Homo sapiens: one gene and its partners. The protein of the gene in region 3 purifies or fractionates together with the protein of the main gene of each other region. This does not show direct contact. Each region holds a gene or a part of one and is shown on either strand. Other genes may lie near its edges.

Region 1 (3,500 bases), on a different chromosome or scaffold from region 3:
TAGCTGGGGCAGCATGGGATCCCATCCCACCAACAAGGGCCCTCTCTATTGAGCATGTAGCTGTCCTGGTGCTCCACATGGGTGGTCCAATTTGAATTTTTACAACAGCATGTGAAGCCAGTGGTGTTACTGTCCTCATTACAGAGATGAAATACCTAGGAAACTAGGGCCTATGCCTTCCGCTTTATATAAGGTTTAACAAAAACAGGCCGGGCATGGTGGCTCACGCCTGTAATCCCAGCACTTTGGGAGGCGGATCCCCTGAGGTCAGGAGTTCGAGACCAGCCTGACCAACACGGTGAAACCCTGTCTCTACTAAAAAACAAAAATTAGCCATGCGTGGTGGCGTGCACCTGTAGTCTCAGCTGCTCAGGAGGCTGAGGTGGTAGAATTGCTTGAACCCAGGAGCCAGAGGTTGCAGTGAGCTGAGATTGTGCCATTGCACTGTAGCCTGGGCGACAGAGAGAGTCTCTGTCTCAAAAAAAAAAAAAAAAAAAAAAAAAAAAAAAAAAAATATATATATATATATATATATATATATAAATAAAAAAATTAACAAAAACAAAGCCCCAAAGAGGCCAAGGAAGTTTGTCCTCAGTTGCCGTGCTCTCTCTTGGGGTGGGATGTGACAATGGAATTGGAAATAGAACCTGGAAGTCCAAGGTCCCCAACTAGGAAATTGGCAGAGTTGTCATTAAAATCCAGGCCTTAGACTTGGATTGCTATGTCAGCCTATGTCTTCACTGCTAACACGACCTGTGTCTTTAATCCTCCACCCTGTACTCGAGGTCCAGGGAACCTCCTGGAGAACCTAGGGCTGGCTGCCTAGAATAGGCCCTTCTTGGCCAGGCGTGGTGGCTCATGCCTATAATCCTAGCACTTTGGGAGACTGAGGAGGGCAGATCACTTGAGGTCAGGAGTTCAAGACCAGCCTGGCCAACATGGTGAAACCCCATCTCTACTAAAAATACAAAAATTTGCCAGGCACACGCCTGTAATCCCGGCTACTTGGGAGGCTGAGGCAGAAGAATCACTTGAACCCAGGAGGCAGAGGTTGCAGTGAGCTGAGATCGTACCGCTGCACTCCAGCCTGGATGACAGAGTGAGACCCTGTTTCAAAAGAAAAAAAAAAAAAGCCCTTCTTCCCCTATAACTCAAAGTGCAAGAGCCTTTTTGTGACATCTCTCCTCCTATGGTGTGCCAGCCAAACCACGGTTTGCAACCTGGCTTCGTTCCCAACCCACAAGTCACTGGGGCTCTCTGTACTGAGTTTCCTCATCTACAAAAAGAAAATCAGCATCTCCCAGGAGAGTCAGTCTTCATGGCAGTTAACTGAGATTGCACCCATAAGGCCCTGGCATGCAGCCTGTGTAGTTCTCAATTGGAAGGCTCCTTATTTTTTTGTTTTTGTTTTTTTTTTTTTGAGATGGAGTCTCACTCTTGTCCGCCCAGGCTGGAGTGCAGTGGGCACGATCTCGGCTCACTGCAACCTCTGGCTCCTGGGTTCAGGCGACTCTCTTGCTTCAGCTTCCAGAGTAGCTGGGATCACAGGCATGTGCCACCACATCTGGCTAATTTTTGTATTTTCAGTAGAGATGGGGTTTCACCATGTTGGTCAGGCTGGTCTCGAACTCCTGACCAAAAGTGACCTACCCACCTTGGCCTCCCAAAGTGCTGGGATTACAGGCGTGAGCCACCACGCCCGGCCGGGGCCTTATTTTGGTCCAAAGCATTGAGCCTAGCAATGTGGCATAGAGGAAGGACCTCCCTTCAGTGGCCCCTGCCTGGGTCCCCCTGCTCAGGTCAAGATGCAAAAAGGTGAGCGCCAGATGGCCAAAAGGTTCCTGGAGGAACGGAAGGAAGAGCTGGAGGAGGTGGCCCACGAACTGGCTGAGACTGAGCACGAGAACACGGTGTTGAGGCACAACATCGAGCGCATGAAGGAGGAGAAGGACTTCACCATGTAAGGTGGCTCCTGCTCTGTCCCCGCTGATCTATTCCTCCCTACCAGGCTGCCTTGAGCCCTGGGCAATAATGGAAAGCAACGTAGGAGGTGGGCACAGGCACTGTGCCTGTGCCCTGGAGCCTGTTCAACAGTCACACAATTAATTACAGTTAATTACCTGGTTGTGCTTATGATTTGTACTATGAGGGAAAGGGAGGACCCCGTGGATTGTGGTGTGGGACTGGGTAGCAGGGAACTGTTTCTGGAACAAGTGATATTTAAGGGGTGTCCTGCAGGATGGTTAAGCATTCGGCAGGTGGGTGCTAGGGAAGAAAGCACGCTACTCAGTGGGAACATCTTATGCGAAGGCCCCAAGGTGGGAAAGTGTTTGTAGCTGAGAAATGGAAGGCAGGCCAGAGTGGGTGGGCAGAGGATAAGGGGGCCACATAGGTTGGCAGGGGGCTGGCTCTCAGCAGCCACTTTGAGGCATTTGCATTGAGGGCATTTGGAAGCCATGGAAAGGATTTATTTTATTTAATTAATTTATTTGGCCGGGCGTGGTGGCTCACGCCTGTAATCCCAGCCCTTTGGGAGCCAAGGCGGGCAAATCACAAGGTCAGGAGTTCGAGACCAGCCTGGCCAACATGGTGAAACCCTGTCTCTACTAAAAATACAAAAATTAAGCCGGGCGTCGCGGCGGGCGCCTATAATCCTAGCTACTCTGGAGGCTGAGGCAGGAGAACTGCTTGATCCTGGGAGGCATCTCAAAATTTTTGAGATGGAGTCTCGCTCTGTCATCCAGGCTGGAGTGCAGTGGCGTGATCCTGGCTCACTGCAATGTCCGCCTCCTTGACTAAAGTAATCCTCCTGCCTCAGCCTCCCAAGTAACTGGAATTACAGGTGCCCACTACCATGCCCGGCTAACTTTTGTATTTTTAGTAGAGATGGGGTTTTAGCTGTTGGCCAGGCTGCTCTCGATAACACCTGATCTCAAGTGATCTGCCCACCTCGGCTTCCCAAAGTGCTGGGATTACAGGCTTTAGCCACTGTATCCAGCCTACAGCCATGGAAGTTTTAAAAGCAGGGAGGTGGCCTGACTAGCCTTGGCTGCAGTGTAGAGAAGAGGTAGAAGGGCTCAAAATCGTATCTGAAGATGGTGCGTAGGAGGGCGTGACAGTGGAGGGGGGCAGTGCAGAGATGACAATGGTGGCTGTTTGAGAGAAACAGGGCCACAGGTAGCTAATGTCTCCTGGTGTGGAGGCCCTGGTCTGGTGCCCAGGCAGATGTAACTTCTGGCCCTGGTCCTTTCTGAAGGCCACCCAGGCCAGAAGGGCTGTCCCTGCCCCCTCCCCTACTTTTCCCTGACCAGAGGTGAGCCCCCTAGGGCATTGTGAGGCAAGCCTTGGATCTCTGGGCATGCGGGGGCCTGGGAGGGCTCACAGAGCCGTCTTTCTGGCCCCAGACTTCAGAAGAAACACCTACAACAGGAGAAGGAGTGCCTCATGTCCAAGCTGGTGGAGGCGGAAATGGATGGGGCTGCGGCTGCCAAGCAGGT
Region 2 (3,727 bases), on a different chromosome or scaffold from region 3:
GGTCCATTGAGAACCCAGCCTTCTACCTTAGGGTGAGGGCAACACACCGTGTACCCGGACCCCAAGGGCCTGGAGTCGTCTTCCCTGGTCATGATTCCCTGCGACCTAAGAGCAAGTGAGGGCAAGTTCCCCAGAGCCAGGCTACTGGGGGAGTTCTAATTAGAAATATGTAGCCTGTTCCCACCAGCCACATTAAAATCCAAGAGCCAGACCCGGCTGCTATACTTTCCACAAACTCCTGTCCCCACAGCTGCTGTTGGTAAAGAGTGGGGGAGCCATTGGTATGAGGTTCCTGGTAACCTGTTTCCCCGTTATAAATATTCGTAATGCCCTCTGTTCTTTAGAGGTATCCCTTTTGGAGATTAAATCTTATGGTTACCTCAGATCATGGATTCTCAATGAGTATGATATTGCCCTGAAGTGGGAGAAAATTGGTTCTCGGGAGGGTGGAAGGAATTTTACTCCTTTTATGCATAAGACACAATTATACATACAGTACATGAGCAGACATACAGTGCATCTGTGATGTTAAGATTTTGCTGGGGAGGCTATTAGGGAAAAAAATCTTAAAAGCCTTCTTGTGGGGCAATAATGAAAAAAGATACAGAAACACTTCTTTAGATGAAGGGAGCTGGCAGCAGCCTATAGAGTTGAGAAAAAGGGGGAAAGAGATTCTACAGATTCTAAAAGAAAAACTGGCTGTCATTTTCAAGAGAGGTTGGCTCTCTTGAGATATGACCTCCTGTTCTCACGTGAGTTCCCCAAGAAGGTTCCTGCCAAGCCCAGCTTTATCGATTGTGAAAACCCAGAGAGGTCTCGCCGCTCGCTCACAAGGGCTTTGTTTGGGAGCTTAGCTTGGGAGACACTGCTGCTTTCTAAGTTTGACAGCACTGGAAGTCTTTGTCCATTAATGCCAGGACCCTGAGTTTGTTTCTGTCTGAACTGAATCTCTTAGGACTAGGCTTCTGTATCACTGGATGATGTTTCTAACTTTTTTTTTTTTTCGAGACAGGGTCTTGCTCTGTCACTTAGGTTGGAGTACAGTGGTGCGATCATAGCTCACTGCAGCCTCTACCTCCTGGGCTCAAGTGAGCCTCCCACCTCAGCCTCCTGAGGAGCTGGGAATACAGGTGCATGCCACCATGCCCAGCTAATTTTTGTATTTTTAGTAGAGACGGGGTTTCACCATGTTGGCCAGGATGGTCTTGATCTCTTGACCTCGTGACCCGCCAGCCTTGGCCTCCCAAAGTGCTGGGATTACAGGCGCGAGCCACCATGACTGGCCTGTTTCTAACTTTTTATTTTTAAAAAGTGTACCCATTAATTTCTAGACATTAAACACACCTATGTTGCCAGCACCCAGATGGGTAAAAAACAGAATACTACCAAACCCTCCCAGTTGTTACACTCAAGATAGTCGCTGTCCCAACCCCACCGCTGTGGTTTGATCTGCTTTTGAACTTTGTCTAAACGGGATCCGAGGTCGGGTACTCTTGTGTGTGGTTTCTTTTGTGCAACATTGTGCCTCTGAGCCTCACCCGTGTTGCTGCATGTAGTTGGTAGTGGTAGGTTTTGCTTTCTCAGCATGTTGGTGTCTTCCCACTGTGTGGCCACAGTGTCTGTTCACCTGTCTGCCCTAAGATGTGTTGCTCAGCCAGGCACAGTGGCTCACGCCTGTAATCCCAGCACCCTGGGAGGCCGAGGCGGGAGGATCTCGTAAGCTCGGAGTTTGAGACCAGCTTGGACAACACGGCTAAACCTCATCTCTACAAAAGATACAAAAATTAGCCGAGCCTGGTGGCATACACCTGTAGTCCCAGCTCCTCAGGAGGCCGAGGTGGGAGGCTCACTTGAGCCCAGGAGGTAGAGGTTGCAGTGAGCTATGATCGCACCACTGTACTCCAACCTAAGTGACAGAGCGAGACCCTGTCTCAAAAAAAAAAAGTGTTGTTCCTTTTTGATGCTAAATTCTTTTTCCACGTCTAATACCTGGTACCTGCCGCCTCCTCCCAGGTGTAAGCCCCCGACAACCTGAGTTTCTCCCTCTACTTGGCCTTGCATCTGATTAAGGCACTGAAATAGGAAATAAAGAAATGAACAAGACTCATATCATCAGAGAATGCTGTGGATTGGAGCTTCTAAGTTACCTGAAATGCGGAAACTCTGTTACCAATGTCCCTTTATAATTGGGAAATAGGCCAGGCGCAGTGGCTCACGCCTGGAATCCTAGAACTTTGGGAGGCTGAGGTGGATGGATCACTTGAAGTCAGGAGTTCGAGGCCAACATGGTGAAACCCCGTCTCTACTGATATATGTATATATGCCGGGAGTGGTGGCACCTGAGGTCAGGAGTTTAAGACCAGCCTGGCCAAAATGGCAAAACCCTGTCTCTACTAAAAAGACAAAATTAGCTGGGCATGGTGGTACATGCCGGTAGTCCCAGCTACTCAGGAGGCTGAGGCAGGAGAATCGCCTGAACCTGGGAGGCGGAGGTTGCAGTGAGCCGAGATCGAGCCACTGCACTCCAGCCTGGGCAACAGAGGGAGGCTCTGTATCCAAAAAAAAAAAAAAAAAAAGGGAACTCGTGTGCCTGTGTTTTTGGAAAGTTGTCTATGCAGCTGTGCTAAAACACCAGAAGCAGATTGCAGCTGATTGTACCCGGGTACAGCATCACTCCAGCCCACTTAGAGCAGAAACCCAGTTTTGGAAACAACACTGCTCTTGCCCCCTGCCCCAGCTCACTGGAGCTGGTGTCTCCCCTCGGCAGCCGTTCACTGGGGCTTTCCCCAGTCCTGCCCCCTGGGCTCTTTCCCTTTTGACACTGCAGTCTGGGGTTGTGTGTATCTCCGTCTAAGCATGGTAGGGCCAGCACCCTCACCAGCGTGGAGACAGCCAGGGTCCCCGGGTGGCAGATAGCCGCCTCATGCCCTCATATGCGTCTCTCAGGCCGCTAAGCCTGTACTATGACTTGATCACCGCCACTGTAGTACTTTTTAATTTCCTTCCTTCAGCTCACACCCAAGAGGGGCCTCCAGTCAATGTCTGTAGAAGCACTGACCATTCCTGCATAATTAGAAGCTGAGGCCTAGCACGGTGGCTTATACCTGTAATCCCAGCACATTGGGAGGCTGAGGCAGGAGGATCGTTTGAACTCAGGAGCTGAAGACCAGCCTGGGCAATGTAGTGAGACCCCATTTCTACAAAAAATAAAAGTAAAAAATAGCTGGATATGGTGGCACACACCTGTAGTCCCAGCTGCCAAGGAAGCTGAAGTGGAGGGATTGCTTGAGACTAGTTTTGTTTTGTTTTGTTTTGTTTTGTTTTGTTTTGTTTTGTTTTGTTTTGTTTTGTTTTTGAGATGGCGTTTTGTTCGTGTTGCCCAGGCTGGAGTGCAGTGGCTCACTGCAACCTCCGCCTCCGGAGTGCAAGTGATTCTCCTGCGTCAGCCTCCTGAGTAGCTAGGATGACAGGCGCCCGCCACCACAACCAGCTAATTTTGTATTTTTACTAGAGACGGGGTTTCACCATGTTGGTCAGGCTGGTCTCGAACTCCTGACCTCAGGTGACCTGCCCACCTCGGCCTCCCAAAGTACTGGGATTCCAGGCATGAGCCACCACGCCCGGCTGAGCCTAGGAGTTTCAGGCCGCAGTGATCTCTGATCTACTGTTGCATGCCAGCCTGGGAAACAGAGCAAGACCCTGTTTCTAAAAATGAGAAAAAATTTAA
Region 3 (3,727 bases):
GAGACTCCATCTCAAACCAAACCAAACCAAACAAACAAAAAGCAGCACAAGAGCCGGGAGTGGTGGCTAACTCTTGTAATCCCAGCACTTTGGGGGGCCGAGGTGGGTAGATTGTCTGAGGTCAGGAGTTTGAAACCAGCCTGGCTAACATGGTGAAACCCCGTCTCTACTAAAAAAATATATACAAATTAGCCAGGCATGGTGGCACACACCTGTAATCCCAGCTACTCGGGGGGGTTGAGGCAGGAGAATCCTTTCAACCTGGGGGGAGGGGAGGCTGCAGTGAGCCAAGATCACACCACTGCACTCCAGCCTGTATGACAGAGTGAGACTTCCGTCTCAAAAAAAAAGCGGGGGGTAGGGGGGAGGCCGGGCAGCACAAGAAAGGGCAAACAAATATGAAACCCTGTAGCCACAAAGAAATAATCAGCATATTCTACTTAAAAAAAACCTGATAAGCAAATATCTCCCTTATTCTACATTTAAATTGGCATAAAAACAAATTATTATAATCTTCTGATCCAAAAGTAAGACATTATTGTTTACTTTTAAAGTAATAAATGTGATCAGGTGCGGTGGCTTATGCCTATAATCCCAGCACTTTGGGAAGCCGAGGTAGGCGGACTGCTTGAGCCCAGGAGTTTGAGACCAGACTAGGCAACATGGCAAGACCCTGTCTCTACAAAAAATAAATTTAAAAATCAGCCAGGAGTGGTGGTGTGTGCTTGTGTTCCCAGCTACTTGGAAGGCTAAAGCAGGATTGCTTGAGCACGGGAGGTCGAAGCTGCAGTGAGCTATGATTGTGCCACTGCACTCCAGCCCGTGGAACAGAATAAGACTGTCTCAAAAAATACACACAAAAAATAAAAACATAAGGCCAGGCACGATGGCTCATGCCTGTAATCCTAGCACTTTGGGAGGCCGAGGCAGGCGGATCACAAGGTCAGGAGATCGAGACCATCCTGGCTAACATGGTGAAACCCCGTCTCTACTAAAAAAAATACCAAATGTTTGCCGGGTGTGGTGGTGGGCGCCTGTAGTCCCAGCTACTAGGGAGGCTGAGGCAGGAGAATGGTGTGAACCCAGTAGGCAGAGCTTGAAGTGAGCCGAGAGCGCGCCACTGCACTCGAGCCTGGGTGACAGAGCGAGACTCTTTGTCTCAAAAATAAATAAATAAATATAAAATAAAAACATAAAAAAAGTATATTTTCAGGAAATGATTCATTTTAAATCCTACTCAACTAAATGACTCAGTTAAGGGTAACTGATTATAATCAATGTCATCATTTAAACTAATACCCATTTAGTGACCATAAACAACAAAAGATAATTTTATCCTAATGCTTCTATGAGTTGGTCACCATTGGATATAATTAATAAGCAGAAAATTTGCTTGGAAAGTTTTATGACATAAGTACCTCTTTAAGCTGCTCTTTTCGAAGTTTATACTCTCTTTTCTGGGACTCGAGAAAACTATTCAGTTCTTTCTTCTGTTGGGCCTGAATATGTTGCTGAAATTTTTTCTCTTCATTGGACATCACTTTAGCCTATATGAAGTTTAAAAAATGAATCAAATTTAGTTAAGTAGATAAAGTAGTGGTTTAATATACATCATTAAGAATACCTTTTATTTTCTAAGAACAAGAAATCATTAGAAACATTACCAAAATAAAAGACTGAACCAAATTATAAACATGTGCTACTTGGCATCCTTATAATTTGAACTTCATAGAATCAGTAAGATGAAACTCATCTTTGAAATGTTGATCTCTTACAGGGTCAAAAATGTTGTCAACTTTTTATTTCATTTAACAGAAGTATACCTTCCTCCCAACCCTCAATCCCTCAGTAAAACAAAACAAATGCTATATTTTATTTCTGATTCTATATGCAATACATGTTCATTGTAGAATATTTACAAAATACAGAAAAACAAGAAACATCTTACATAATTTTGGCATCCAGAGATAACCAATGTAAACATTTTGGTGCATATCTTTTGCAATTTTTTCTTTTTTTAAAATTATTATTTTTGAGATGGAGTCTTGCTCTGTTACCCTGGCTGCAGTGCAGTGGCACGAGCTCGGCTCACTGCAACCTCCGCTTCCCGGGTTCAAGTGATTCTCCTGCCTCAGCCTCCCAAGTAGCTGTGACTACGGGTGTGTGACACCACGCCTGGCTAATTTTTGTATTTTTAGAAGAGATGGGGTTTTGCCATGTTGGCCAAGCTGGTCTTGAACTCCTGAGCTCAGGTGATCCACCCACCTCGGCCTCCCAAAGTGCTGGGATTACAGGCGTGAGCCACCATGCCCGGCCTCTAATTTTTTCTATAAATGTTCATGTCTCAAACACACACACATACACATACACACATATATTTGCATGTATATAATTAAGTAGGTATTGTGGCTCATACCTGTAATCCCAACACTTTGAGAGGCTGAGGTGGGAGGATCACCTGAGCCCAGGAGTTCAAGACCAGCTGGGTAACAGGGCGAGTGCCTGTCTCAAAAAATATGTTACAGGGTCTCACTCTGTCACCCAGGCTGGAGTGCAGTGGTACAATCATGGCTCATTGCAGCCTCCTCCTGAGCTCAAGTGATCTTCCCACCTCAGCCTCCTGAGTAGCTGGAACTAAAGGCGTATGCCACCCTGCTCAGCTAATTTATTTTTTTTGTGTGTGGAGACAGAGTCTTCCCATGTTGCCCAGGCTGGTCTTGAACTCCTGGGCTCAAGTAATCTTCTCACCTCGGCCTCCCAAAGTGGTGGGATTACAGGTGTGAGCCACTGCACCCATCCTGGTTATATACTTTTAAAACAAATTTGTTACCACATTGCATATCTGCTTCAGGAATTGTTTTCCTAAATATGTTAGTATCGCCTTTTCCCAAGCTATTAAAAATAATATCTATCAAGTGTGGTGGCTCACATCTATAATCCCAGCACTTTGGGAGGCCGAGGCAGGAAGGTCACCTGAGGTCAGGGATTTGAGACCAGCCTGATTAACATGGTGAAACCCCTTTTCTACTAAAATAAAAATAATACAAAAATTAGCCAGGCATGGTAGATGAAAAATTAGCCAGGCATGGTAGATGCACCTGTAGTCTCAGCTACTTGGGAGGCTGAGGCAGGAGAATTGTTTGAACTTGGAGAGCAGAGGTTGCAGTGAGCTGAGATCACACCACTGCACTCCAGCCTGGGCGACAGAGGGAGATTCTGTCTCAAAAAATAATAAAAATAAAATAAAAAATAAAAAAATGAAAATATCCAATGCCCAGAGGATTTTAAATATGTATACATTGTTTCATCAAATTATTTCAAAATCAAGTATGTATTTATACTATAAATTATTTTGTCAGGGTCCCTACTACTATAAGAATGTTCTTTTTTTGTGAAAAGGGAGAAGAGGGTAGCTATGATAAATAATGCCTCACTGCAGACTACCTGGACATATTTTAATGATATTGTGTGAATTTACTGAGAAGTCTACATTCTACTTGACAAACATGGCTATCAAAAAAAGTAAAACAATGGGACACCAAAAACATTAGAAGAAAAGGTTTCACATAACAAAAATCCTAAAAACTAACTTTTATCATGTAAAATAATGACAATTATTTGTCAATAATCAAATGAGCTCAATCTGAATCTGAATCTTTCATAACTTATAATCTTCAACATTATCTGTATTTATTACAGTAATCTTAAATCATTCTGATATTAAAAT

The links.
Region 1: the proteins of TAOK1 (region 3) and ODF2 purify together in Homo sapiens (co-immunoprecipitation; one large-scale study listed by IntAct). This does not show direct contact.
Region 2: the proteins of TAOK1 (region 3) and KLHL36 purify together in Homo sapiens (affinity purification with mass spectrometry, with the first as the bait; one large-scale study listed by BioGRID). This does not show direct contact.

What each region holds. Positions count from the first base shown.
Region 1 is NC_000009.12:128,469,506-128,473,005, forward strand, and holds part of ODF2 (outer dense fiber protein 2), read left to right. Parts: intron 1-1,802; coding exon 1,803-1,963; intron 1,964-3,407; coding exon 3,408-3,500. UniProt on the Homo sapiens protein: Seems to be a major component of sperm tail outer dense fibers (ODF).
Region 2 is NC_000016.10:84,651,284-84,655,010, forward strand, and holds part of KLHL36 (kelch-like protein 36), read left to right. Parts: intron 1-3,727.
Region 3 is NC_000017.11:29,508,684-29,512,410, reverse strand, and holds part of TAOK1 (serine/threonine-protein kinase TAO1), read right to left. Parts: intron 1,548-3,727; coding exon 1,419-1,547; intron 1-1,418. UniProt on the Homo sapiens protein: Serine/threonine-protein kinase involved in various processes such as p38/MAPK14 stress-activated MAPK cascade, DNA damage response and regulation of cytoskeleton stability. Phosphorylates MAP2K3, MAP2K6 and MARK2.